4 linked regions of the Homo sapiens genome follow. The protein of the gene in region 3 interacts with the protein of the main gene of each other region in a biochemical or structural test. Each region holds a gene or a part of one and is shown on either strand. Other genes may lie near its edges.

Region 1 (7,382 bases), on a different chromosome or scaffold from region 3:
GAACTCAGGTTACCCCTTAAAAATCCATTCACCCTTCTGGGTCCGGGTCCAATGCTTCCTCTTGGGTGAAACCACTTAAAACCTCCTTGGTCAGCATGGGCCATCCTTTCTTTTGTCTTCCCAGAATGACGGCTATGGCTCTATTTGAATGTGACCGTAGAAGCTTAATTTTCATTTTTTTTTTTTAATGAACGAATATATTTTTTCAGAATCATTGCTTTTTTAATTTTCATTTTTAATAATTTTCCCTACCAGAGAGCGTAGGCTTATATATGATTTATCTTTCTATCCTAGAAAGACACTCAATGACTTCTGTGGTAGGCATTCACATCTGTTGGACCAAGTTGAATTACACTTCTTATACTGTAGGATTGAAACCATGGCTAATTTATTAGCAGTGTCCCTTTGAACAAATTACATCTTGGGGGCTCAGCTTTCTCTTCTCCAACCTGGATGATAAAAAATATTGCTAATGAGCATGAGCATGTACAGTGGACCCTTGGACATCATGGGTTTGAATGGTGTGGATCCACTTTTGTGTGAATTTCTTTCTTCCTTTTTTTTGAGACAGGGTCTTGCTCTGATGCCCAGGCTGGGGAACAGCGGTGTGATCATAGCTCATTGCACCCTTGACTGCCTGGGCTCAACTGAGCCTCCCATCTCAGCCTCCTAAATAGCTAAGACCACAGGTGCATGCCACCATGCCTGGCTAATTTTTCTATTTTTTGTATAGATGAGATCTCACTATGTTGCCCAGGCTGGTCTCAAACTCCTGGGCTCAAGCAGTCCTCCCTCCTCAGCCTCCCAAAATGCTGAGATTACAGGCATGTGCCATTGTACCTGGCCAGGATTTTTTTTCAATAAATACACTGGAAAATGCTTTGGAGATTTGCAACAATTAAGACAAACTTGCAGATGAATGTGTTACTTAGAAATATTGAGAAAATTTAGAAAAAATTAGGCATGTCATGAATGGATAAAATATATGTAGATACTAGTCTAGTCTATTATTTACTATCATAAAATACATATAAATCTACTATGAAAAGTTAAAATTGATGAGACTTAAACAAATATAGACCATACATGGGCCTATTTGCAGTTGAGAGAAATGTAAAGGTGAAGTATTAAATCATAATTGTATAAAATTAACTGTAGTCCATACTGTACTACTCTAATAATTTCATAGCCACCTCCTATTATTGTGGTGAACTCAAGTGTTGTGAGCATCCGTTTAAAATGCTCTGTGATACTAATCATCCTCACCATCTCTCCAGTAAATTGCATAGTGCAGTAAAAAGTGATCTCTTGCAGTTTCACATTTAAAAAAAATCATGTTTAGTGCAATACTGTAAACCTTGAATAACATCATGCACCCATACAAAGTGCCACCAGTGATGCTAGCAGTGCTCCCAAAAAGCAAAAAAAAGTCACGACATTTCAAGAAAAAGTTGAATTGCTTAATGTGTACTGAAGATTTCAGACTGATGATTCATCTTGTAAACAAATGATATAAACTGATGGTATCAATAAATACAGCATAGTATTATAAATGTATTTTATCTTCCTTATGATTTTCTTAATAACATTTTCTTTTCTCCAGCTTACTTTATCATACGAATACAGTAAATAATACATAAAACATAGATGTTAATGGACTTTTTATGTCATTAAGGCTTCCAGTCAACAGTAGGCTACTAGTAGTTAAATTTTGGGGGAGTCAAAAAATTTTCAGCTGCATGGGGGTTGACACCCTAAATCTCCATGTTGTTCAAGGGTCAACTGTACTTTGTTCCACTCATTAAACTTTGACAACATCAAGATTAACAATATCAACTATAAAGTGTGTACTATTATTAGCTCACTTTTCCAAATGAGAAAAGCAGTCAGAAACGATCTGGGGAATTTGTCTGAAGTCTTAGTACTAATAAATGGAGAAACCAGAGTCTGAATGCTAGCAACCTGGAGTCAGAGTCCACACTATTCATCACTTACTATTCAATTTGCTGAGATCAAATGAGTTTATACACATAATGTGCTTGGAATAATGTTTTGCAAAACGAAGGGCTCATTAGTTTATCTTGCAATTATTGTTACCGTATGAGAACTTGGCTTGCTTCTGGGATGCTTAATAGTTTTTAAGTTGCATTTCTGAAGATTCATTTCTATGAGTTTAATAACTGTCTTTTCTTTAACAGATGCACATTTACTATGATTTTGTAACTGGCTGGCTTTAATCTCTTGGTTGATCTCTTTACTGCTTGGGTTATGTTTGCTGTATATGCAGCATGAAACCTAGGGCTGCTACCAGCATAAATCTTTAAATTCCAGAAAATGAATGATTCCCATCACCACTGAGAAAAATGCATCAGCAACCAGAGGTGAAGACAACGATTCTATGGAGGCTTTTCTTTTGTCCTTCCCTGACTGGTAATGCTGTCTATCCTTCTACAGCCTGGGAAGAAGAGGAGGAGGCTGCCAGGCAGTGTGGGGAAACCAAACTGTTTTTCTCTCAACCAGTATCACTCAATGATTACCAGCTTTGTACCTATTGTGGTGCTGTACTTCCCAATTTTTATTGAGCTGAGTCTTCTGTATTCAGTTCATATCGTGAATTCTCAGGACATTAGAATTATCCATGTTCAAATAGAAATTTGCAAAGTTAAAACAAACATATTTCCAGATTAATCATAACTTTGAATACCTGGCAATGGTTCTCTGTCATCTGTTTGGATAATTGACACTTGTCTTTTAAAATCAGTATTTACATAGTAAGATAGGGCATTGATTTTGATTGTTTTGAACTACAGACTCACATTTTTGACCTCAGGTTTCTCAATTGGAAAATGGATAATCTCACCAATTTTACTTGGTTCTTAAGCCCTCCCTTTCCAGCTACAAATGGTATCAGAAATAATGACACTTCAGTGCAAAGGAAAGTTACAGGATCAGAGCAATGTGAAATGTTCCTGTAGATTGAATTATTATGTTGCCAGACTAAATGCTCTGAAAAGCTCAAATGAGAAAAATAATTCATTTTAAAATGATGGCATTCCTGAGCGCAAACATTCTAGGATCTCCTGTACAAGAATGCACTGAGGGGCCTTCACCTGGGGATATTTGAAGTAGAGCATGAGGTTACTCTGTATATCCTTAAAGGATCTGGGAGGAGCTGAAACAGACTTATGTTCAATGAGCATCTGTGATTTCCACCTAACTTACTTCTGAAGCATATGAAAATTCCACCCCATGCAATATTTGACACAGAAAGTACTGCCCCTTTATTATATAAAAGAATTAGCTTCTTTTAAAAAAAAAAAAAAGTCTGGAATCTCCTTGTAGATGTCTTCCTGGTATTTGGAGAATGCCCCTATGATCACCCTACTTATATGCTGTAGGACTTTATTTATGATGGCTGTCCCATTCCAATTTTTATATTTCTATTTAGAAAATTCTAAATTTGCTGGAGTGCCCAACATATGTTACATGTTTGTCCTTGTGAGAAGGCCAGGATGACCACCAAAGAGCCAGTAAAAGTTTAGAAGGAGCTGTTCAGCCCATCTTCTGAACGCTCCGGGAATCTCTTCAACTTCAGACCATGCCAGGTGACTTTTAGAACCCAGTTCATACTTCCAGCCTGTTCTGATCCTAGGTTTGAACAGTTCTCTTACTATCCTTCAGGTGAGGCAATCAGGTCACAGAGCTGGTGAATGGCAAAACCCTGTTAGAACTCAAAGTCTTAGCTCTCAAATGCTGTGTTTTCTCACTGATAGAAGAATGTGAGGACTGCTAAAGAATCAGCCTCACTGTATTCCAACGTGTGCCTGTCATCTACCACTGACAACTTTATTTTTATTTATATATTTACTTATTAGAGATGGGATCTTGCTCTGTTGCCCAGGCTGGAGTGCGAGTGCAGTGGCACGATCATAGCTCACTGCAGCCTGGAACTCCTGGGCTCAAGGAATTCTCCTGCCTCAGCCTCTGGAGTAGCTGGGACTGCATGCCTAACTTACCACTGATAACTTTAAATCAAAGTTTGAACATTGCTAAGGTATTTCCTTAGCAACAGTTCCCATAAACCCTCTGATATAGGCTTGCTTCCAATTCAGTAAGTTTTCTGAAAAAATTATGTTTTTAACCTTAGAAGGTATATCTATATATGGTTATTTTTATATATGGTTTTTATATATATATAATAACCATATACATATAATATATATATTATATATTATATAATATATATAGTTATTTATTTATATATATAAGGTTATTATTTATATACATAAATACCCTTAAGCAGAAAACGAGATTTTTAAATAAAGTAATTTCTTGACAATCCATGAGGATGTATTGAAAATCTCATTGTTAAGGACTCCCAAAACTTCACTATTGATCCAAGTGATGAGAAAAGATCATGATTGATAGAGCTGGGTAAAGGTTGCTGTTGGGGTCATGAGAGATTATGAGAGAAACATCATAAGACTCTCCTTACCCCTACAGTGTGATTGCAATTACATCTTAGATATGCAGGAAACTTCCACATACTGTCCCGTTATCAGAAATGAGAACTTCAATGAGAAGGTGGAAATCTATTAATAATTGTGCAGTTCATGCGACATGATCATTTGGGGCAATGCTGGGTTGAAGTGGGCTCTATTTAAATCATGTGTGGATTTTGATTCTGGAAAAAAAAGGGGCTATTTAAAGTGCTGACTGGAAACTAGTTATTCAAAGGCAATTAGACCCTTCTCCCACTTAAATGATTCTGCACTCAAGGAATGATACAAATTGAAATAGTCATTATCCATCCACCTGCCTGGCTTCTGATTAAACCTTGTAGCTGCATATGTCTCTGTCTTTATAGTACACTGGGCGTAGAAGAAAAACCTTCTCCCTAAAGATGAGAACTAGAAATTCAAAGTGGCAGAATCAAGATGCCACTTGCCTTTCCAGGAACACATTTTCTTGCTTAAAGTTCAACTCTGTCAATAAGAGTTTGACCCTTCTATTAGTAAAGACGCTCCTTCTGGAACCCTAATTGGCTTTGATGCATTATCTAGCTGCATCTGCAAGTAAAGTGGGTCCATTAATAGAAAATGAATACTTCCTGTTTTTTTCAAATTGTTTTTTCTGTTGGAGGGCAGCTCAGCAATGATTTTTTAGTTCATTATTCTGGGCCGTAATGGGTTAGGTCAGCTTGTGTTGGCTCTAGTGAGTTTTGAAACTCTCATTATTATTCTAATATCTATTGATTTACACAGCTTTAAAAGCTTTATCATATGAAAGCCTTCTTAACAACGATAAGCATGCCATTACTTGCAAAAGTAAGCAAAGCACAAGTATTTTGCCAACCAACACTAAAGTTTGCGTAGTTTTCATACTGATCAGGCAAAATATGCAATCAGATATTTTTAACATGGAGTATGTACAACACAACAGGACAAAGTGTTCCCTTTATGCCTACTTACTCCTTTTTCAAGTCATTGGAGGTTGCTTGCATACCAAGAAACTACTATTTAGATTTATGATTCTAAAAATCTTAAAAGTATCCTTCTCTGCTCACCAAAATGGAATGAATTATTATAAGAAAATTTAGGATATCAGACAAAGAACTTCAACGTCTCCCAGGGAATAAACACACAACATAAGTTACCCACATTGAGTAGATTATAGATGTACAATTATCGTTAAATCTATAATGTCTCTTTTTCTCCTTTTTAGCATTTGGACATAAGAGTTTGTAATCAATATTCAAGACCCTACTGATTGAGGAAAGGGCATGAAACATGGAAATATAAATTATGTCGGAGTTCTGTGTTGTAGAATATCAGGTTTTGGTGCCCTAGGTCTCTTTATAGGAACGTTCCAGTGTTTCTTTCCAATCTCTTCTAATTTTAAGCCCCCAAACCCACCCCTTCCCAGTCTACTCCCTCCAGTCTTTCTTATGGCCCACGTTGACATGGTGGATCTTAGAGCCAAGTCTGGTGTCCTTGTGTAAACTCAATTTCATCATATAAAATTCCCTGTTTTTAGAACTGGGGATGTGAACTGTTAAACTGGAAATGGAACCTGGATATTTTTGAATTCTCATTAAAGCTTTGGCATTTATAAAAGCAAAGCTCATAATCATGTCCTGGCTATACTGACTATTCTTTCTCCCATTTTCTGATTCTATCCCTTCACCACCTCCACTTGACAAACTATTAATACTAACCATCCTTCAAGATTCAATTCAAAGTCAACTTATTCTGAGATTTTCCCGAACTTTGCCTCTTGAGATCTTTCCTTATCTAACCTTGTTTAGCATTTTATCTGTGGATCTCTTAGTGAATTATATTTTGAGTGATAGAAAATTCATCTGGAGGCTCGTAGCCTCCCATAGGCCGTGAATTTCTTGGCAGTAGGGGTGGTGTCTTTCTCATGTGTACATGGCCCACAGTGCCTAGCACAATGCCTGGCTGACAGGAGCCTTTGAGAATATTTGCTGGATTAAATTTGACCCTCTTATTTTCACTCCAATTCTGTTGCTGAGTCCTATATTTTTCTCTTGGAAAATGAAGAACATTTCCAGCTATCAGTGCGCCTGAATCCAAGGTCGTGTTTTGAGGATCTTGTTATGCCCTTCACACTTCCTGTTGGTCATTTCAGAAGTGACTCGCAGTAGGGACTTGCTGACTGCCACGTGCTCACCTTCTCCATGATCCTGTCGATCTGGCGATTCTGTGTATCGATCTCATTGCCCATATCCAGGGCCATGTGACGGAGGTTCCCGATGATGCCGCTCACCTGCTCTAGGTTTTCATCCATTTCATTTTCTCGGGCATCATTTGTTACCCTGGGATCCAAAGAGCAAGTTTTAGAAGACAGAGGGTGGAAAACATATTGAATACCAAGGACCCAAAGCATAGTGGAAATCTGTCGTCCTCTGGGCATCAACTTTATCTATCTTTAATCTCCATCCAGTACAAAAACACATTTTAGCTTTCATACATTTAAAAAAAATGTTTAAAATTGCTTTTTGAACCCTTGAATTTCTATTCTTAAAGAAGGTATATTAAATAGATTAATTTATCTACTTTCTCACTCCTTCCATTATGTTGTTTCCCCTTCATATGTTTATTTCAATTTTTATTGTTTAAGGATGAAAACATTTTCTTTGAAAGGACTTTAGGTCAGAGCACGAAGATGGAATTAGAAACGATATTCTTCTTTCTAAGAATATTCTTAATATTTCTAAGACTCAAATTAAGTCTCAAAATTTCTAAGACTCAAATTAAGAATACAATAAAAAGCTTATTGTGCTAAGTCAGAGTCTCTGTGCTCATCTCTTTTCACACTTGGGATTGACACCAATGGGAAGAGTAATGATAATTACAGTT
Region 2 (7,382 bases), on a different chromosome or scaffold from region 3:
GCCAAAAAAAATTTCTTCTTAAAAACTAGTTTTATAAACGCAGAATATATTCCATGAGTAACTGCTGGTATTTTTTAAGAAAATATATTGTGCAATTGTGGCTACCACGTACTGCTGGCAAAGCATTATTATTTATGTAAAATGTGAAAAAAAAGGTGTAAAAATTTTTCAACTGCCTATGATCATGATGAAAGGTTACTGCCTTCTTACAAAAATTATATTGGCATCTTCTTAAAAATAATTCGAAAAAGGGATAAACTCCCTAGCCAAAAATAAATAAATAAAAAGGTGCATTTTTTAAAATGATGCTACTGCAATGCAATGGTTTAAATACCAAAAAACTGAGAAAATGAGCTGTCTGTGATCCAGCATTAAAGAACATACTAAAAAAGAGCATTAATGTAAATTAAGTAGAAAGGGGATCAAAATTGAACTAACCAAGTTTGTGCAGTATTGTAGCCAGGCTTCTAAAATTAGATGTAGAAAATATAAATAGACTGCTTTAGGTAATGAGCCACCAGTGTCCAAAAAAAGGAATGAAATTAAGAAAAAGCTCAGTTAACTTGATCCAAAGCTCTGAGTAATTCTTCACCCTGCAGTAGGTTTCTGCTGCCTTGTATAGGAGCATTAACTTCACAATCATAACTGGTCAGCTGTGGTAATCCACTTTCATCCATTGATTGCCCCAGCAGTCTACATGCTAAATCTGAAAAACAAAAGAGATACCTAAGTATACATTCATCTAGTCAATGAATATTTATTAAACACCCACAATGTGTTAGGTATCATAGAAAATAAAGCAAAATTCTGGAAGGGTTTTTAGTTTACCTGGCAAAACCACAACTATGTTAAAAAGTAAGTATAATCCAGTGATACTGTTGCTGTGTCAGAAATGTTTACAGGATACAATAAAGGCACAAAGAAATAACAATTTGGAAAAAGGCATAAATATGGTGGGCATCAAAGCTGATGCCTGTAATCCTAGCACAGGCTGAGGCAGGAGGATCACTTGAGGCCAGGAGTTTGAAACCAGCCTAGGCAACATAGTGAGACCCCATCTCTACAAAAAGCAACCGGGTGTGGTGAGGCATGTCTGTAGTGCGAGCTACTCAGGAGGCTGAGGTAGGATGATTGCTTGAGCTTGAGCACAGGAGTTTGAGACTGCAGTGAGCTATGATCATGCCACTGCACTCCAGGCCTGGGCAACAGAGCGAGACCCTGTCTCAAAAAAAAAAAAAAAAAAAAAAGAAGTCATAAAAGTTCACAAATTTCAGCTTCTATCAATATTGACAGCACATGGACATAGAGAAATCAAAGAAAATTACTAAAAATGAAAAGCTCCACCTTGAAATGTTAATCTCTGTATTAAGACCATCACATGAAATACAACTGTACTTTTTTTTTTTTTTTTTTTTGAGGCAGAGTCTCACCCTTGTCGCCCAGGCTGGAGTGCAGTGGTGCCATCTTGGCTCACTGCAACCTCTGCCTTCCGGGTTCAAGCAATTCTCATGCCTCAGCCTCCCAAGTAGCTGGGATTACAGGCGCCCGCCACCACGCCCAGCTAATTTTTGTATTTTTAGTAGAGACGGGGTTTCACCATGGTGGCCAGGCTGGTCTCCAACTCCTGACCTCAGATGATCTGGCTGCCTCGGCCTCCCAAAGTGCTGGGATTACAGGTGTGAGCCACCGCGCCCAGCCACAACTTTACTTTTTAATCTTGCTAAGGAACCAAAGTCATTCTCACTTAGATTAAAGCTCCTAAATAAAAATGTTTCATGTATTTTGTCTTTGTGATGTTCAAGGTCAAAAAGAATAAACTAACCAGAGGGTATTAAAATAATTGTCTTTTGCTCCATTCCATTCTGTTCACTAGATTTGCATCCTTTTACACGTTTCCAAGAAAGTGATGTAGTAGCTGCATGATCGTCTGGCTGCTGTAATAATGTTCCCTATAAACAGTAAAGTTATTTCAAGTTTAGTTTGTTGAATTTTTTTTTTAAACAACCAAAAACCTTGAAATTGGTGTAAATTTAATAACATTATAGGCAGTTTCTTAAATACTACCCTAAATTATTTTGAATTCTTTCTTAAGTTATTTGTCATCCATTATGACCATTCTGTCTATAAATACTTTCCAGTTAATTTAGTTTGAAAATATCAGAATGTATTATACCACCATTGACTTACCCCAAAACATAGCAGTTCTTTTTTAAATATGAGATGGACTCTCACTCTCTTACCCAGGCTGGAGTGCAGTGGCCTGATCTCAGCTCATCGCAACCTCCACCTCCCGGGTTCAAGCTATTCTCCTGCCTCAGCCTCCAGAGTGGCTGGGATTATAGTTGTGCACCAACACGCCTGGCTAATTTTTGTATTTTTAGTAGAGACAGGGTTTCACCAAGTTGGCCAGGCTGGTCTCGAACTCCTGACCTCAAGTGATCCTCATCTTGGCCTCCCAAAGTGCTGGGATTACAGGCGTGAGGCACTGTGCCTGGCCAATAGCAGTTCTTTTAATAAGGCAAAGTAACTTAAAGGGAAGAGAATGAGATTGGTGGTGATATTCAGGGTGGAGTAAGGGGAGAACTTCACTTTTTAACTCAAAATACACTGGAATTGTTTGGAATTTTTATACCAAGAATGTATGTATTAAACATTTGTATTTTTAAAAACCAGTGCATACAGAGTAAAAAAACCCAATGTATAACTTCTGAAAATATAACTTTACTATTTGGAAGAAACGTGGAAACACACACACACACACACACACACACACACACACGAAATAGCACATTAGCTAGAAAAGCAAAACCTACTACTCATACTTACAATTCCTACTGCTTGAAAAAGTGAACCATCATGTTCCATTTTTCGCTTTCTCTGAGCATTCTGCAAAGCTAGTATCTTTGGATTTAGTTCTTCCTCAGGAACTGTAGTTCTGAAAAGAAAAAAATTCTAAATGAAAATATAGCGTTTTTAAAAAAAATATCCAGTGAGCGCTTTTAAAGAAAATACATAATTCTTTAGTTCTCCAATATTAAGGAATATAATATACATAAGATAACTTTCCTGATCACTAAAGTTTATCATCTTAAAAGTAAAAGCTTAATTTTTTTTTTTTTTTTTTGGTGAAACACGGTCTTACTCTGTCAGCCAGGCTGGAGTGCAGAGACGTGATCTCTGCTTACTGCAACCAAGCCCTGCCTCTGGAATCAAGTGATCCTCCCACCTCAGCCTCTCAAGTAGCTGGGATTATGACTAATTTATATATACATATTTTTGTAGAGACAGGATTTCACTATGTTGCTCAGGCTGGTCTCAAACTCCTGAGCGCAAGTGATCTGCCCACCTTGGCCTCCCAAAGTGCTGGGATTACAGGCGTGAGCACCTGGCCGTCAAAGCTTAATTTAACAGGAAATTTTCTACAGTATGCGTATCCCTATTTTATAAAATAGAGCTGAACACAACTAAATTGACACTATTGTAGAGTCAAAACAGTTAAATATTGTCCTTTTATTCCACCTAATATAACAATGCAGTGATATTGTTGGGACTATTGAAATACAAGATCAATCTCACATTCGTATAGCATTTTCAGTTTATAAAACATTTCAAGTTCATTAGTTCATTTTAACCTTACTTAAGTTCCCAAGACAGATAAGGCAGGCATATCATACCCATTTTATAAATTAGAACCCTGAGGCCTATTGGGTAACTTTCTCAAAGTCCTACTGCTCACTAGTTGCAATATGGAAGTACACTCTAGGTCTCCAGATCCCTACCTCCCCTCCCCTGCTCTTCCCACTATGCTATTTTTCACTCAGTATTGATCTGGTTATCAAACATGAACTATGTATATCTAAAATTAATATTAAATTGTGAAGAATTGTTCTAATGAGTAAAGTACATCAGCTTTGTTACATTATTTTGACTTTTCAAGACACCCCACAAACCAAATGCATAATCATAATGGCTCCTTGCTGTTCCAGACAGTTGAGAATGCCAAATAGGTAAGTGATCTTATTTTGCAGTTTTCTTTGGTTTTTAAAAAATTTCTCTAAAACTTCTATTATATAGACAGGGAAGTTTAAAAATTCTTATACAGATATATTGTCTTTATGAAATGTAACTCAGTCTATTATGTAAATATCATTGTAGTAGTAGTAGTACTTAGTAATTACGTTTTTAATGGTTTATCTTAATTTTTGAAATTCCTTTCATAAAAGTTTTCAGTGTACACTACATTGGAACTAATGTTTAAAAACAGTTGCTAGCTGGGCACAGTGGCTCACAACTGTCATCCCAGCACTTTGGGAGGCTGAGGCAGGTGGATCACCTGAGGTCGGGAGTTTGAGACCAGCCTGATCAACCTGGAGAAACACTGTCTCTACTAAAAATACAAAATTAGCTGGGTGTGGTGGTGCATGCCTGTAATCCCAGCTACTCGGGAGGCTGAGGCACGAGATTTGCTTGAACCAGCGAGGCGGCAGTTGCGGTGAGCCAAGATCCGAGATCACGCCATTGCACTCCAGCCTGGGCAACAAGAGCAAAACTCCGTCTCAAAAATAAATTGCTAAAGTGACTTGATGTGTTGTTACACTTTGGCTTTGACAAGTACAAGAGAACAGTTGTTCAGAAAACTGGATATCCCATCCTCTGTAGCTGATAGTAAACTGTAACTTATAAGTGATTGTCATTTTTACTACTGTATTCATGCATCTGTCAGTCCAACAACTTTTTTTTTTTTTTTTTTTTTTGAAACCGAGTTTCACTCTTCTCGCCCAGGCTGGAGTGCAATGGCACGATCTCGGCTCACTGCAGCCTCCACCTCCAGGGTTCAAGCAATTCTCCTGCCTCAACCTCCCAAAGTAGCTGGGATTACAGGCACGTGCCACCACGCCCAGCTAATTTTTGCATTTTTAGTAGACCGGGTTTCACCATGTTGGCCAGGCTGGTCTGAAACTCTTGGCCTCAGGTGATCCACCCGCTTCAGCCTCCCAAAGTGCTGAGATTACAGTGATGAGCCACTGCGCCCTGCCTCAACAACCATTTATTGAGGAAGTACTACACATTAGGTCATGAGCTAAGTATTAGTATCACTAAAATGCCCAAGACACTGTGATTGCCCTCGTGGAGCTCAGAGTCAAAAGTGAGTAAGTGACACAGTAAATAAAGTAATGTAAAGTACTTCTGAGTTCATCTAAAGCCCCAATGTCTTTTCCAAGCTTAGGGAAAAGACCTCTCCCAGCACTCTAGGTCAAGGTGGGAATGTTAGGCAGGGAAAAAAGCTATGTGTTCTGGCTACGACAGTGGTTCTTTCCTATTGCTATTGATATCTGGCTTAGTCTAGACATAGTAGAGAAGGAATCATTTCCCTTTTCCACACACTTATTAGATAAAACTTAATTTCTTCTAGCTATAGCCTCAAACTTAAAATATGTGAAATCCCCTTACAAATTATATACAGAAAGTATAACTTAAAAATTGGGTCATGTCCATATGTTTGTTTGAACTAGCTCCATAGAAGTAACAATTCATGCTTAGATTCCTGTTGTACAGTTTGAAAACCTATGTAGCCTGCAATATATATATAGCTAATGTTCTACAAATACGTAATGAAAAATAAAAGCAACTTTAATACAAGTTAACTATAATAAAATTTTAAAAGAGGGGCCTGTAAATATCTATATTGAATGCTGAAGATGGAAGGCTCAATTTGGAATGTGCAATTGGAAATAACCCTTAAATTGGAAGGGCTTTTCTTCAGATAAGCTTAAAAAAGAGCTCTAAGAAATGGAAGCATCTAAGTAGTGAGGGTAGTTAACTAGTCTGATTTAAACAACTGTAAGAACTTTAAACAAGTTCTGTAAACACATTTACAGTACTGAGCTGGATTTTATTTTAAAGGTGTCAGAAGACCCTCCTCCATTTAGATAGGTAATTTTAGAATTTATAATTATTTTAGAAAAAATAGGAGCGGGCATGGTGGCTCACACCTGTAATCCCAGCTCTTTCGGAGGCTGAGGCAGGCGGATCACCTGAAGTCGGGAGTTTGAGACCAGCCTGACCAACGTGGAGAAACCCTGTCTCTATGAAAAATACCAAAAAAATCAGCCGGGCGTGGTGGTGCATGCCTGTAATCCCAGCTACTCGGGAGGCTGAGGCAGGAGAATCTCTTGCACCCAGGAGGCAGAGGTTGCCGTGAGCTGAGATGGTGCCATGCCATTGCACTCCAGCCTGGGCGACAAAGCGAGACTCTGTCTCAAAAAAAAAAAAAAGAAAGAAAAAGAAAAAATATATGAGGTTAATTTAGAAAGTTTTTTGAGTTCTCAAGAATTTGCGTTAGGGCATATATATCAGAAAGTTTGCTATAAGTTTAAAAATCATGTACTATCACATACATTTATCTCAAAAATAATAAAAGAACTATAACTTGAATGTTACATATAAATACCTTTGACTCAAAGCGACAGATAACACGTTAGGGCTTCTTGGATGAGATTTTTCTGTCTGTTCTATGACTCCTTTTCCTGCTCTGTTTGGTGAGGCTGTCCGACTTTGAGTATCTCTATATGGTGATGATGTGGCACTAGTAGTTTCTTTATGTATGTGGGTAGGAGATGGAGATGCAATCAATATTTTAATGTCTTCCATACGGTCTTTTGTCACTGTTTTTAATTCATCAGTGGTGGCAGTGGTAGTGGTGGCATTAGCAGTAGGTTCTTGTATTTGAGTCTGCTGGAATACTGTAACTGTGCTTTGAGGACTTGCGCTTTCAGGGCTTGCGGAACTGCTTTCTAATGGTGACAACTGATCGAAGGAACGTAACTGGAAGTCATCATCCATTGGGATATAGGGAGCTAACATCTCCAAGTCTAAATCTGTGTCCTTTAAAACAGCAAATACATGAGTTTTTACAATGGCCACACCTTATAAATAAAAAACAAGTGAAACTCAAAGTCACTTCAGACTAAAAATTAATGAAATTTAATATAAAACAAATAAGTTCATATACCTGAGTAGAAAATGGGTTCTTTGCTTCTGTGTCTTCAGCAAAAAGTTTTTCTACCAATTCCAACTTGAATTCATTGACCATATCACTATCCACATAAAAACAATATTCACTGGGACTATTAGGCTGTAAAAAGAAATATGTTTACTATTTCCTGAAGAAGCTTCCATATACTTTGCTAGTTGTCAGAATTTTCAAACTAGATCTCAGAAAAACCAGAAAACACACAACCAAGTCCATCGTGTTTATCAAATTTTATTTAACTAGGCCGGGCTCAGTGGCTCACGCCTGTAATCCCAGCACTTTGGGAAGCCAAGGTGGAGGGATAATGAGGTCAAGAGATCGAGACCATCCTGGCCAACATGGTGAAACC
Region 3 (6,873 bases):
GAGGCAGGAGAATCGCTTGAACCCAGGAGGCAGAGGTTGCAGTGAGCCGAGATCGCACCATTGCACTCCAGCCTGGGGGACAAGAGCAAGACTTGGTCTCAAAAAAAAAAAAAACAAAAAAAAAAAAACAGTACAGATGCTGCTGAGATCTATGAGGCAAAAAGGGAAATGGGGGCCCAGCAAAGGAGACAAGAATCAGTGGTGACGCAGGAAGAAAACCAAGCCAGGGGCTCCCTGAAGCCCAAGTGCTAGGAGCAGAGTGATAAGCTGTCTTGACTGCTGCCCAGGAGGCAACTCGAGCTGCTGAACACAGGAAAGGGCATGGCACCCAGTGGAAAGGGCATGGCACCCAGTGGAAAGGGCATGGCACCCAGTGGTGGCAAGGCCTGGGTGGTGAATGAATGAAGATTCATCATGCGTTTCTAAAGCCACGACTCCGACTCCACTGGTGAACCCTGGTACTGCGAGGACTATAGCAGGGGATCTTATTCTGGGGTCTGTGAGCTTCGAAACCGGGGGCGGAGAATCACATCTTTATTTGTACTAACCTCTAACTGAAACTAGCATTTGCTGCCATTATGAGTGGAGGCAATGAACCACATTGGTAATAGAAGTGCCTGGCTTTGTCACCGATAGAAATCCAGATGTGTTTACATTGCATTGCAGTTAGAGAGACATCTGCAAGTATCACATATATTCGTCACTACTTCCAAAGCAGCAGGGTTGTTAGACCTGCAGCTATATCTTAATATTTAATGCATTCATAGAGTGTGTGTTAGGGGCCACCAGTTCTAACTCAAAAATGAAATTGAAGGAATACATTTTAATAAGATATAGATGACATTAAACAATTACAAAAGTTATAATCAACAGGTAAATCGGCTGGGCATGGTGGCTCATGCCTGTAATCTCAGCACTTTGGGAGACTGAGGCGGGTGGATCACCTGAGGTCAGGAGTTCTGGACCAGCCTGGTCAACATGGCGAAACCCCGTCTCTACTAAAAATACAAAAATTGGGCTGGTCGCGGTGGCTCACGCCTGCCATTCCAGCACTTTGAAAGGCCGAGGCAGGTGGATCACTTGAGGTCAGGAGTTCGAGAACAGCCTGGCTGACATGGTGAAACCCCCATCTCTATTAAAAATACAAAAAATTAGCCGGGTGTGGTGGCGGGTGCCTGTAATCCCAACTACTGGGGAGACTGAGGCAGGAGAATCACTTGAACCCGGGAAGCACTCCAGCCTGGGCAACAGGAGCAAAACTCCATTAAAAAAAATAAAAAATAAAAAAAATAAATAAATAAATTAGCCGGGCTTGGTGGCGGGTGCCTGTAATCCCAGCTACTCAGGAGGCTGAAGCAGGAGAATCACTGGAACCTGGGAGGTGAAGGTTGCAGTGAGCTGGGATCACGCCACTGCACTCCATCCAGTCTGGGTGACAAGAGCGAAACTCCGTCTTAAAAAAACAAAAACCAAAAAACTAACCAACAAACAAAAAAACAGGTAAGTCATTATGCATCAACCAACATAACAGAATACAGAAGGCAAAAATCCAGACATTGAAGGAAATTCTTCTTTACCTTCCTGTGTCATGTCAAGCAGTCAAAAAATAAGTAAGGACTTGAACAATGTAACTCAAAAGACAGAATGAATACACACAGAACTAGTTTTTATTTATTTATTTATTTATTTATTTATTTATTTATTTATTTATTTTTGAGACAGGGTCTCTATCGCCCAGGCTGAGTGCAGTGGCACAATCATGGCTCAGTGCAGCCTCAACCTCCTGGGCTCAAGCGATCCTTCCACCTCAGCCACCCAGGTAGCTGGGACTACAGCTGTGTGCCATCACGCCCAGCTAATTCTTTAATTTTTTTTTTGTATAGATGGGGTCTCACTATGTTTCCCAGCCTGGTCTTAAACTCCTGGCCTCAAGTGATCCTCCCGCCTCGGCCTCTCAAAGTGCTGGGATTATAGGCGTGAGCCACTGTGCCCAGCCCAGGACTAGTTTTACTTCCTACAAAGAAGAATACACCAACTCTTATGGGCCACCATTTAAAGAGACATTTTCATAGTGGACTTCAATGTAATTGAGTCCATGATCCTTTTGAGAAGGGGCTGAACTGACAAGCCTCCCTGAGACAGGTGCCCCATGGAATGCTAGTGGAGAGAGAAGGAAAGAGAGTGGAATGGGCACTGGGCAGGGGCAGAGGGAGGAGGAGATGAGTTTGGGACCAATGGTGAGCCAGGACAGGAGTCAGATGAGATTGTGCATCTACTGGAAGACAGGCCTGTGAAGCCGGGAATGGGAGCTCCAAGGGAGTCACTTCTTAAGAGTTTCATGACAGGTCGTCGCCTCCATCAGGGTTCTTTGTTTCTTTTCTTTTCCTTTTTTTTTTTTTTTTTTTGAGACGGAGTCTGGCTCTGTTGCCCAGGCTGGAGTGCAGTGGCGCGATCTTGGCTCACTGCAAGCTCCGCCTCCCGGGTTCACGCCATTCTCCTGCCTCAGCCTCCCGAGTAGCTGGGACTACAGGTGCCCGCCACCACTCCCGGCTAATTTTTTGTATTTTAGTAGAGACGGGATTTCACTGTGTTAGCCAGGATGGTCTCGATCTCCTGACCTTGTGATCCGCCCGCCTCGGCCTCCCAAAGTGCTGGGATTACAGGTGTGAGCCTTTGCACCCGGCCGGGTTCTTTGTTTCTTTGAATCAACGTAACCACGACTACAATCACAATAGAGAACTTTTTTGTTTGTTTGTTTGTTCGTTTGTTTGTTTGTTTGAGATGGAGTCTCGCTCTGTCACCCAGGCTGGAGCGCAATGGCGTGATCTCAGCTCACTGCAACCTCCGCCTCCTGTGTTCAAGCTATTCTCCCGCCTCAGCCTCCCGAGTATACTGCTGGGATTACAAGTGCGTGCCACCACGTCCGGCTAATTTTGTATTTTTAGTAGAGATGAGGTTTCACCATGTTGTCCAGGCTGATCTTGAACTCCTGACCTCAGGTGATCCGCCCGCCTCGGCCTCCGAAAGTGCTGGGATTACAGGCGCAAGCCACAGCTCCCGGCCCGATAGACAACGTTTCTACACCCCAGGGCAGAGTTCTTTCATTCCATCTAGCAGTGTCTCATCCCCTTGCCCAGTCGGTTATATAGTTGTAGCCTGCCTGCTGCGCCCACCCCTGCTTTCATCTTTGTGGAGGACGCAGTGTCGCGGTTAAGATCGCTGGTTCTGGAGCCACGTCACCTGGGGTCAACCCAGGCTCTGACCCCTGGTAGCGATGCAGTGGCATCTGGGCGGGTCCTGCAGGCGCTAGCTGTCACTGTCTCTGTTATTCCAGTTTCGCGATCCCGAGTACGGGGAATGGTTTGGCTACCTGAGCCGAGAGGGCAAGGTGGCCCTCTCCATCAAGGGAGGTCCTTTCAAAGGTGAGTGGGGGAGAGGGCGGGGCCGCAGGGGTTGCGCCTCTCGGCTGCCCCCGGCCCTCACTACCTGCCCGCCTCTACCCGCAGGCTGCTTCCACGTGCCGCGGTGCCTAGCCATGTGCGAGGAGATGCTGGGCGCCCTGCTGAGCCGCCCCGCCCCCGCCCCCTCCCCCGCCCCCACCCCCGCCTGCCGAGGCGCGGAATAAAGGCTGAGTCCGCTCCACCTGCGGCTGTGCGCGCGTCTGTGGGCTCGCGGGAGGGGGGCTGTCGCGCCGAGGGAGGGGCCGGCTCCAGCTCCGGGGCAGCGCCCGCCCCGCCCCCAGGCCCGCCCCGCGCTGACCGGCTCCGCGCATTGGCCCGCCCCGTGCGCTGGCCTGTCCCGCGCATTGGCCAAGCGGCCGGGAGGACGGGCCCGGCGGCCGTGCACTTCCGGCCGGTGGCCGGCCCGGCGCGCACCGCCCCTTCCGCCGTCGCCCAGCGAGCCCAGCTCCGGTCCCAGCCCCGGCCGTCCCGGCGTCGCTTCGGAGCGCGGCGGCAGCTGACTGCGCCTTCACGATCCGCTGGGACCCGCGAGCCCCGCCGCCGTTATGAACATCCGCAATGCGAGGGTGAGCGCCCGGGGCGGGAGGCTGTCCGCGCCGCGTGGGCGCCGGGCCGGGTGGCTGCCGCGCATGCTCCCGAGGGCCCCGGCCGAGCCCGGCCCGGTGGCCCTGAGTGTGCCTGCGGCCGCTGGACCTATGGGGCTGGCCCAGCCCGCCGAAGAGGCCGGGGCGCGGGGCCGGGGCTGCGATTCCCTCCTGTTTGCGTGATGTCGGGCCTCCGTTGGGTGGGCTCCGGGGACCTCCGGGGCGCCCACTCCTGTTCCTGTGCTCCGGGCGTTGTGCAAAGTCAGATCGTCACAGTGCCTGCCCAGCCCCGAGGGAGCGGGGCCGAGCAGACCGACGGGGAGCAGGCTTCTCACCCGTGGTCACCGCCGCCTTAGACTGAGCGCGTTCCACTGCCCTCCTTCCCTGCAGCCAGAGGACCTAATGAACATGCAGCACTGCAACCTCCTCTGCCTGCCCGAGAACTACCAGATGAAATACTACTTCTACCATGGCCTTTCCTGGCCCCAGGTGGGCAGCTTCTGAATTTGGGCATGGGGGAAAGCAGGCCGAGGAAAATCCCATCTGGCCATCTTGGAGGGAGTGGACAAGTCTGTCAGAGCCCAGGGGGCTGTATGGTCGGTGGCGTCCTGGGTGTTTTCAGCTGGCAGACAGGGGCAAAGGAAAAGAAGGCGCCCGAAGGGAGCAGAGAATAGGGGCAGGATCCCCACTTTGCGTCTTCTTTCTGGGTATGGGCAGGGCACAGTGTGGCGAGGGGGAGACCAAGCCACTCAGCCCGGAGGTCATGAGCCATCACACAACTCGCCACTCGTCCAGTTTGTGTCCCTCTAAAGGGCTCTTCTAGCTCCGACAAGAAGTTTTCTCACTCTGTTTTCCTGTCACCAGCTCTCTTACATTGCTGAGGACGAGAATGGGAAGATTGTGGGGTATGTCCTGGCCAAAATGTGAGTCACCAAGGAGGAAGACAGAAGCTACACGTGTCTGGTGGATGCCTCTGTGGGCTTTAAAAAAAATGAATAGGCTTCTTCTTTTCAGTACAGTTGAAAGTTTATAGAAAAATTGAACAGAAAGGACATGGAGTTCTTATAGCACCCCTCAGCATCCCCTCCCTGCCAGCTTCCTCTGTTAGTAGCATGTTGGATTTGTGTGGTCCACTTGTGACAAGTGATAAATGAATGTGATATGTTACTATTATTATTATTACTATTATTATTTGAGACGGAGTCTTGCCCTGTCGCCCAGGCTGGAGTGCAGTCGCGTGATCTTGGCTCACTGCAACCTCCACCCCCTGGGTTCAAGCGATTCTCCTGCCTCAGCCTCCTTAGTAGCTGGGATTACAGGCACATGCCACCACACCTGGCTAATTTTTGTATATTTCAGTAGCAATGGGGTTTCACTACGTTGGCCAGGCTGGTCTCGAATTCCTGACCTCAGGTGTTTCCACCCACCTCTGTCTCCCAAAGTGCTAGGATTACAGGCGTGAGCCACTGCGCCTGGCCGATATATTATTATTAACTAAACCCATAGTTTACATTACTGCACTTCTCTTTGTGTTGTAAGCCCCATGGTTTTGACCAAATGACATGTGTCCACCTTCATATTATCGCAGGATAGTTTCACTGTGTTCCACGCATTCATCCCTCCCTCTCCTTAACCCGTGGCAACCACTGATTTTTTACTGTTTGCATGGTTTTGCCTTTTCCAGGATGTCACAGAGTTGGAATCATACTATATACAGCTTTTTCAGGCTGGCTTTTTTTCACTTAGTAATACACATTTAAGCTTCTGCCTTGTCTTTGCGTGGGTTGACAGCTCATTTCTTTTTTTATTTTTTGAGACAGGGTCTCGCTCTGTTGCCCAGGCTGGAGTGCAGTGGCATGATCATGGCTCACTGCAGCCTCAACCTCCCAGGCTCAAGTGATCCTCTCATGTCTGCCTCCCAAGTAGCTGGGACCACAGGCATGCGCCACCACATCCAGCTAATTTTTTGATTTTTTTTTTGTAGAGACAAAAAAAAGTGTTGTCCAGGCTGGTCTCGAACTCCTGGGCTCAAGCAGTCCTCTTGCCCCGGCCTGCCAAGTAGCTGGAACTATAGGCGTGTGCCCCACACCCGGCAGGCTTGGGGTTTTCAGGCAGCAGAGGGTGGCAGGATCGGCTGCTCTGATCCAAGAGGCTCCCGGCTCTCCCCCAGCTGGGGTCTTAGGGGGCTGTAGTGCATGTCCACTCTACAAATGGCAGGGGGGCTGGAGGTGGCTGTGCCTACACTGAGCTCCTTTGCAGCCTCTCCTTTCTCCCTCTCCAGGGAAGAGGACCCAGATGATGTGCCCCATGGACATATCACCTCATTGGTATGTAAGGTCCACCCAGGCTCTCTGGTGGGGGTGGAAGTGGGGGTTAGTTGGGGCAGCCCTCAAGGTCCCAGTCCCTCACCCCATCTCTGCTCTTCTCCCACCAGGCTGTGAAGCGTTCCCACCGGCGCCTCGGTCTGGCTCAGAAACTGATGGACCAGGCCTCTCGAGCCATGATAGAGAACTTCAATGCCAAATATGTCTCCCTGCATGTCAGGAAGAGGTGGAAGCCGGGCTGAGGGAAGGGGGATTGAGGGGGAGAGATACTGCCTTGACGGGGGTCCTGGGGTACCTCAGCTTTTGGTGAAGATCCAGGAAGTGGGATTGGGGGGAAGGAGGGACCAGGAGGAGGGGCAAGACCTGGACGTGCTACCCCTCCCTGGCCAAATCCGTGCAGCTCAGCAGTGCCTTGTTCCCCTGCAGTAACCGGGCCGCCCTGCACCTCTATTCCAACACCCTCAACTTTCAGTAAGTAGATCTCGATTTTTCTAATGGGCTGGG
Region 4 (8,370 bases), about 76 Mb from region 3:
AGTTAATCCCAAAAGGTTATATACCATGTGATTCAATCTGTATAGTATTTTTGAAGTGACAAAATTTTAGAAACAGTGGACAGATCAGTAGTTACCAGGAGTCAGGAAGGGGGGTGGTTATTATTATAAAGAGGTAGCATGAAGGAGATCTTGGTGGTGATCTAATAGTTCTGTATCTTGATTGTGGTGGCGGTTACACAAATCTACGCACGTAATAAAATGGCATAGAACCATACACACTTTATACCAATGTCAATTTCCTACTTTTGATATTGTTCTATAATTAGGTAAGATGCATCCATTGGGGGAAAATGGGTTGAACACAAGACCTCTCTAACTTTGTAACCTCCCATGAATCTTTATTTCAAAATAAAACATTAAAAAATATACTGATTTAGCTGGAATAAGAATATCAAGTCTCTATCACCTGAAATCTCAGGTCCCAGGTCCAGTTCCATTAAAAACTCTCAAAGGAACCATGTCCATCAATGCTTCACTGCCCCAGATGGAAAACTGGGATATTGTGGGTGTCTTAGTGACTTTTTCTCTGCTCTCAATTTTTTCCTGTTTCTCTTCCCACTACATCAAAGCAGTTTCTTTACAAGTTACAAGTTGGAGAAAACCAGTAAGGTTTAAAAAAAAAGGCAGGAGCAAGCAAAAAGGAAGTGCTTTACAAGCAGGCAAAGGATGACTGGCAACCTATGAGAGAAAGAAAGGAAATTACCACAAAAATAAGCAGAAGTGTATTCAAAGAGGCTGTAAAGTCAACTGCGGAGTCCTAAAAAACTAAGATGGAACCTGGTAATTAACAAGTCAGAGGTTTCTGGCTATCCCATGTTACCTCAACAAATCAATTTCCCTTGGCAATCCAAACCAGTGGACCAGAAGAGTCAGCAAATACCATAGTTCACTTCTGCAGGACAAAGACGACAAATGAGGCAGCCACTACTCAGGAAGCCCCATTCCGGAAACACCGCCAGCAACCACCACGTTGAAACAAAAAGGAATTGAGCTGACACCACATGGCTGCCTAAGCACCTCCAAAAAAGTAGGCCTACAATGTGACTCTCTGTTCAAAAGAAATACATTAATAATCAGGGAACCATGTAACTTCCTGTCCTCAGCCTAAATAAGTAGAAGGTATCCAGGTTACGGGAGAAAGTTCTATTTCAACGTATCCTTGGTCATTGTCTCGAATATTCAGAGGATCTAGTTGATAGCCAAGGAGACCTAAATTCTACTCCTAGCTCTGCCACCAACTTGGTAGTTCAGTAACCCTGAACAGGTCATTTTCCATCAGCAAAACAGGACTAGCCAATCATTTCAAGGCTTTGGGTTAGCGTGTGCTAAATGAAACTTTATTAGGTCCAGAGGGAGAAAAGTTAAGCAGCTCCTCCAATCCCGCCCCCAGCTAGCTTCCTCAAGCCAGTTTCCCTAGAGAGAGAGGAAATAAAGCCCAAGACTGCAATTACAGGAAGGTTATCAGCATAATGTCCCACTCCTTGTCTGTTAGTTGGTCCATGCATCTGGAAGAATCAGCGTCGAACACAGGGGAGATGCAAGGAACTAATTAAAACCTAAAAGCTAGTTGCATGCCAATGTCCACCTGTCCTGTTTTTTACAGGGTCTATCCCCTTTTTTTAGGATTGTATGAGGGCCAGAAAGGGCACTCCTCTAGTACTAACATGGCTGTGACTCCTACTTTGTCCAGATTACAAAGGCCTATGTCATTTGGGGAAATGTGGAAACCAGGTATTTTTCATGGACATAAATTATTGGGTTCTTCTATCTCCACAGCAGGGCAGCGGTTACCTGCAAAAATATTGACCAAAGTGAAATTAGAGAGAAGAGGAGAGCTACATGTCCTTTTAGGGTACCCATACAGTTCCCTAACTCAAACGTGTCCTCATATGTTTAAAGTTAGAGTAAAGGGAGATCTCCTACTGACTTACGTGTCTGTTAATATCCAACACAAGCCCTCATTTGAACCAGCCCAAATTGGAAAAGGGGCTAGATTACACCAGCCAAATAAATACCTACCCATCAATCAACCACTTCCCAAAAAGGTCAAGGTTGCAAAATGCTATCAACAGAAACCTTTATGACCCCTCAAAAACACCACTCTTGGATCCTGTTAAGGTATATGAACAGTCAAGTCCATCAGTTACATACCGACTCATCCTCCTGCACCTTGCTCCTGGTATGCACAAATATATCACACGTGACAAAAAGGATAAATGTAAAAGCTGCCCACTCTACCAACAATTCTGGCAGATAAGAGAGAAACCGTGTTGGCAAGTGACTAGAGATCCACATGCGCAGAGTAAGAGACCCAAAGTGCACGAGGAAACTTCCCCCAATTTTAAAATTCTACTTTTCTAGCCACACGTGGGGATGAGATTGGAGGCCAGCAAGTATGAGCAGCCACACCCTGCTCTACCATTACCTAGTATGTCACAATCCTGATGCAAATCCTGTGCCCAAGAGTCCAACGATACCGCGCTGCAGGGCAGCAGACGCCTGTTACGTAAGCTCTGCAGGGCCTCCTCCAGTTCGCCCCGCCCTACCCTCCCACCCCAATTCTTTAGTGGCGGGGGGCGGGGGGGTCTACTCCTGAAGTTAAATCAACATCCTCTTGGAAAAATATCCTTTTGTGCAGGAACCTGTGAGATGTGGGCCGTTTCTCATTTGGCTGCGACGGTCTAGGAGCGTGGGGGAAGGGAAAGTAAAATGACCTTTCAAGGTCCCTTCCTTGAAGCCTAGAGATTTGCAGGATAAGCATTAAGTCCCATCTCGCCGACTGGGAGCTGGAGGCAACGGAACTGCATTTCACCAATAGGAAAAAGGACAAAATGGGTCCCAGCGGCAATCTCAGCCCTTCCTCAGTGGGATCCATCCCCGAAGGGTGACTTCGGGTGCTTTCTGGGCTGGGGAAAATGCGGCTAGAAACCACCAAACCCGTGAGCAGCCTCGCCCTCCAAGCCTAGGACCCCTGGGGCCCAGCCAAAAGCTAAAAGAACTTAGAGCAGACGAGAGAACAAGTCGGCTCCGGCCAAAGAGGTTTGCGACAGAGCACAGAGAGCACGCGGGCAAACGTGCAGAATTACCTCATAACGACCCGCTTCCCTTTAACGTCCAGCTTGTCCAGCGTCAGCTTGTTAGAAAGCGACATTTTGGAAATACAGCTGGGGAGAGAGGTCGGTGATTCGGTCAACGAGGGAGCCGACTGCCGACGTGCGCTCCGGAGGCTTGCAGAATGCGGAACACCGCGCGGGCAGGAACAGGGCCCACACTACCGCCCCACACCCCGCCTCCCGCACCGCCCCTTCCCGGCCGCTGCTCTCGGCGCGCCCTGCTGAGCAGCCGCTATTGGCCACAGCCCATCGCGGTCGGCGCGCTGCCATTGCTCCCTGGCGCTGTCCGTCTGCGAGGGTACTAGTGAGACGTGCGGCTTCCGTTTGTCACGTCCGGCACGCCGCGAACCGCAAGGAACCTTCCCGACTTAGGGGCGGAGCAGGAAGCGTCGCCGGGGGGCCCACAAGGGTAGCGGCGAAGATCCGGGTGACGCTGCGAACGGACGTGAAGAATGTGCGAGACCCAGGGTCGGCGCCGCTGCGTTTCCCGGAACCACGCCCAGAGCAGCCGCGTCCCTGCGCAAACCCAGGGCTGCCTTGGAAAAGGCGCAACCCCAACCCCGTGGAATTCGAGGCTGCCCTACCAGGATCAATGCAAATGCCACCTCCTTTTGGAAAATCCTGGTTTCCTAGCTCCCTTCATGGAATTCTGCTTCTTAAGGCTTACTTAGTAATAGAGACCTCTCAGAAGTTGGAAGAGGCCCAGGTCCACTCTGGCCCCCACCTTTTTTAAAATAAAAAATGCAATGTAATTTTTCTGGTTATGGCATGATTGATGCTAATGGCAAACACGTGGCATTTTTCATATATTAACCAACGCTCACAAAACGCAGTAGTGACTACTGTTATCCTCATTAGGCAAATGAAATAACTGATGCACAGAGAAGTTTAGTGGGCCAGGCGCGGTGGCTCACGCCTTTAATCCCGGCACTTTGGGAGGCCAAGGCCGGCAGATTGCTTGAGCCCAGTGGTTCGAGACCAGCCTGAGCAACATAGCAAAACCCCATCTCTACTAAAAATACAAAAAATTAGCTAGACGTGGTGGCGGGCACCTGTAGTCCTGTTACCCGTGGAGGGTGTCCAAGTTCTTAGCGTCTTGAACTAAGAACTGGACGAAATGCACAAAGCAAAGAAAGAATGAAGCAATAAAAGCAGAGATGTATTGAAAACGAAAGTGTAACCGCCCAATGGGTTCACCTTGTCCGCTGCCTAGACAGAGCTGATTTATGAAGACGGGAATTGCAATGGCGAAAGAATAATTCACGCTGAGCGCTGTGCGGGAGACCAGAGTTTCATTATCACTCAAATCAGTCTCCCTGAGCATTCTGGAATCAGAGTTTTTAAGGATAATTTGGCAGGTATGGGTTCGGAAAGTGGGGAGTGCTAGTTGGTCGGGATGAAGATTAAATCACGGGGTCGAAGTGAGTTCTTGCGAGTTCTTCCTGGGTGGGATCGTGGAGCTAGTTGAGCCAGATTATCAGTCTGGGTGGTGTCCTCTGCTGCATGAGAATGCAGGGTCTGCAAAATATCTCAAGCACTGATCTTAGGATTTGCAATGGTGATGTTATTCCCAGAAGCAATTTGGGGAGGTTCAGATTCTTGCAGCCAGAGGCTGCATGGCCCCTAAACTGTAATTTATAATCTTGTAGCTAATTTGTTACACCTACAAAGAAAGGCAGACTGGTCCCAGCAAGAAGGGGAAAGGGCTGTTATCAATTTTGTCTCAGAGTTTACACTATAAATTCTTTCCCAAGGCTAGTTTGGCCTATACCCAGGAATGAACAAAGACATTTTAGAAGTTAGAAGGAAGATAGGGTAGGTTAGGTCTGATCTCTTTCACTGTCATAATTTCCTCAGTTATGATTTTTGCAAAGGCGGTTTCAAAAGTATACTCCACAAGGTGAGAGCAGGCCTGAGCAAGCAGCTCAAGAGCTTGGTTACAGAATTTTCTGGGGTCTAAATACCCGGTAGAGGTTTCCCATTAGCCACTTGGTGTATACCCCATGCAAATGAAGTAGTGGTCCATGGTCAGTCTGATTGGTTGCAGAAAGTGACCAATCAGAGGCTGAAGTGAAGTTACAAAGTTACACTCCTATACAAATGAAAACTTGGCCTGCCACCAGCCTGATTGGTTGCAGGAAGGGACCAATCAGAGGTACTTTCAATTTCTCATTCAACTGACTTTTATTCACAGTGCTGGGAAAATATATATACTGACTGAGGAGATATTCTAGTTAACCAAGTGTGATGATGATATATCACTCAGATTCCCTCTTTCAGAACTGAGGCACTTATTATTAGCTGCTGGGAGTATTAGTTGCTGACAGCTCACAGCTGAGTTTCTCCCCAGAAACTGCCCTCTGTTGAAGGAAGCTGCCTTGCCTAAGGTTATACCGACTTCCCAGGGGCATCCATTAGTGATTGCTTAATGCCGTTCCAAAGGCCTGGCTTCTTTGCTTCATTTCAGGACGTCTCTAAAGGACCAGCTCTGCTTCAGAACTGTCTGTGGGGTTGGCTGAAGCCTCTATTGAGACTTCTCCCTTTTCTATCCAAATCTGATTTCCTTACTCCTTTACAGGACTTGTTCCCAGAAGCAACCCCCAGTGATCCACCTGCACACAAATCTCAATCTCAGAGCCATTTCCCAATTCTAAGATGGTGCCCATGATCTCTGCCCTCTAGTGTTCACATCTTTCTATAATTTCCTCCCCTTGAATGTGAGCTGGAACTATGACTGGCTTCTAACCAATAGAATGTGGCAGAAGTGATGAGATATAACTCCCATGATTAGATTATGATGTATATAGGAGATTCCATCTTTCTAGTTTGCTCTAGAGAGACACCCTTGTTGGCTTTTTTTTTTTTTTTTTTTTTTTGAGACGGAGTCTCACTCTGTTGCCCAGGCTGGAGTGCAGGGACACAATCTCGGCTCACTGCAACCTCCGCCTCCCGGGTTCAAGCAGTTCTCATGCCTCAGACTCCTGAGTAGCTGGGATTACAGGTGCATGCCACCACGCCCAGCTAATTTTTGTATTTTTAGTAGAGACGTAGTTTCACCCTGTTGGCCAGGCTGGTCTCGAACTCCTGACCTCAAATGATCCGCCCGATTCGGCCTCCCAAATTGCTAGGATTACAGGTGTGAGCCACCACACCCAGCCCAATGTTATTTCTTTAAACCAATGAGAATTCTTGACAAACAACTTTGCAATCACCCCCACTCCTGATTCATCCTTTTTTCTTAAAAAATTTGAACCTCCCCATTGTTCTCCAGAGTACTCTTCAAGGCAACCTGGAAGTGTGTCCCAGGCTGCAGTTCTCAACCATGGCCCAAATGACCTTTCCATATTTTGCCTACACTTCTTCCTTTTAGGTCGACATGATCTATGGAGAAAAATCAGTTGAAGATATCTGTAATGTTAAATTTGTTAACCATAAAATGCAACTGGGAGACAGATTGCAGGCAATTTTATGAAAAAACTTAATAAGACCATATTGAAAAAAAATACATTTTTCAGAAAAATACCAGTAACATGGTATTAGAGACAGATATAGCTAAGAAACTGATCAAAATATGTGTATGCCCCAAAAAAATCTGCTTGTGGTTATTTTTTTTGGAGGGAGCGGGGAGGGTTGTTTGTTTGCTTGTTCTAAAGACAGGACCTCGCTCTGTCTCCCAGGCTGGAGTGCAGTCCAGCAATCAGCTCACTGCAATCAGGCTCAACCTCTGGGGTTCAAGGGATCCTCCTGCCTCAGTCTCCCAAGTAGCTAGGACTACAGGCATGAGCCACCACGCCCAGCCTCCTTAAACTCTTTAAAGTATCCCAGTTTAGGTGATAAATCATATGGTCTCTCTAAGGCTATAGGATCTTTCTTTTTGTGGCTTTTTCCTATCCTTTAGTTTAGTTATCTATTACCCAGATCCCCTTTTATATATAAGTGTAGTCTTCTGTAAATATAAAAGACCCACTTAAATTGTCTATTCTTTATCACATTCAAGGGAGATATCAAAGGAAGGGAGATAGGAAGTTCAGAGGTATAAACGGGGTCGGGCTTTTGTTCCCTGAGAGGCTTCTTTTTGCCAATTAATTCATTAACAAGCCCCAATAGTTGCCTCAGAAATAGATTGATACCTCCAGGGACATGTGAGTAAAGCAGTGAGAAAAGAAAAAAAAACGCACACATACAGCAACATATACAGAAAAAGAGAAAGAGCATGCAAGAGCTCTAAAAATAGTAAATACAATTCTAATCAAAGAGAATCCCACAAATATGAAGGTAAGAGGTAGAGCCTATATGAATCCTAGACTCCTCTGCACCAATCCTCTATTGTGAATTCCTGGAGGAAAGTTTATGCCATTATTTACGTTACAATGCCCCAATACCTTCTACATTGGGGTCTTTACCATCAGGTCACCATTGTAACAGAGACCATTTTCCCTTTCTTTACTAATAGAACTCCTAAATTTTAATCAAACACATGGCTCTCCAACAAGAGACTACATTTCTCCATCTTCCTTGTGGCTTGGAGTGACCATGTGAGCAAGTTCTGGGCAACTGATATAAGCCATTTCCACATAGTGACCCTAAAAAGGAAAGTTCATGCTGTCTTTAGGCCCTTTTCTGCCTTCTGCTGACTGGGAGATGGCAGAAGCTGGGGCAGCCACCTTGGCCTCAGTGATGGTAGTGCTTCCTCACCAGCCCTGGACCACTCACCTCTATACTGTTAACATGACAGAGAAATCAACTTCTATCTTGTTTAAACTACTTGTGTACAATCTTTGTTACAGTACCAGTCCCCTCCCTAATAAAACTATGGTGAGCTAACCTTGCAAAATGAAAAAAGCACACATTGAGTCACTGGAACATGAGTAGAAAGACCAATGGGACAGAATAGAAAGTCTATAAATAGAACCAAATGCATGTAGAAAATTAGTACCGAGTCAAATCAGTGGGGTAATAATGGACTTTTATTTTAAATCAATGGTCTTGAGACAACTGCATAGCTATATAGAAAAGATAAAGTTTGATCTCTTCTTCACACATATGGCAGGCAAACTCTGAGTGACACAAAGATCTAATAGATTTACCCTTTGAGCCAGCAGTTCCATTTCTGTGAATCTAATGTAAGGATAGATCTCTGGACTTTATGTATTTCTGTATGTACATTTTCTCATTTGTCATAGCAAAGGACAGGAAAAATCCCAAGTGTCTGTCAATAAAGGACTAGTTAAACTAT

The links.
Region 1: of the proteins of NAA10 (region 3) and SNAP25, one has a biochemical effect on the other in vitro, tested with the Homo sapiens proteins (one study listed by BioGRID).
Region 2: the proteins of NAA10 (region 3) and HIF1A form a complex in vitro, tested with the Homo sapiens proteins (4 studies listed by BioGRID and IntAct, with this or other methods).
Region 4: the proteins of NAA10 (region 3) and PGK1 form a complex in vitro, tested with the Homo sapiens proteins (one study listed by BioGRID).

Annotation. Positions count from the first base shown.
Region 1 is NC_000020.11:10,298,724-10,306,105, reverse strand, and holds part of SNAP25 (synaptosomal-associated protein 25), read right to left. Parts: intron 6,839-7,382; coding exon 6,694-6,838; intron 1-6,693.
Region 2 is NC_000014.9:61,740,258-61,747,639, reverse strand, and holds part of HIF1A (hypoxia-inducible factor 1-alpha), read right to left. Parts: intron 7,136-7,382; coding exon 7,013-7,135; intron 6,886-7,012; coding exon 6,452-6,885; intron 2,936-6,451; coding exon 2,827-2,935; intron 1,950-2,826; coding exon 1,823-1,949; intron 707-1,822; coding exon 555-706; 3' UTR 1-554.
Region 3 is NC_000023.11:153,932,038-153,938,910, reverse strand, and holds the start of NAA10 (N-alpha-acetyltransferase 10), read left to right. Parts: upstream 1-3,873; 5' UTR 3,874-4,006; coding exon 4,007-4,027; intron 4,028-4,435; coding exon 4,436-4,534; intron 4,535-4,909; coding exon 4,910-4,968; intron 4,969-6,326; coding exon 6,327-6,372; intron 6,373-6,479; coding exon 6,480-6,595; intron 6,596-6,795; coding exon 6,796-6,840; intron 6,841-6,873. Other genes in the region: RENBP (N-acylglucosamine 2-epimerase), read left to right, coding at 3,335-3,422, 3,507-3,625. UniProt on the Homo sapiens protein: Catalytic subunit of N-terminal acetyltransferase complexes which display alpha (N-terminal) acetyltransferase activity. Acetylates amino termini that are devoid of initiator methionine.
Region 4 is NC_000023.11:78,099,143-78,107,512, reverse strand, and holds the start of PGK1 (phosphoglycerate kinase 1), read right to left. Parts: upstream 3,266-8,370; 5' UTR 3,173-3,265; coding exon 3,108-3,172; intron 1-3,107. UniProt on the Homo sapiens protein: Catalyzes one of the two ATP producing reactions in the glycolytic pathway via the reversible conversion of 1,3-diphosphoglycerate to 3-phosphoglycerate.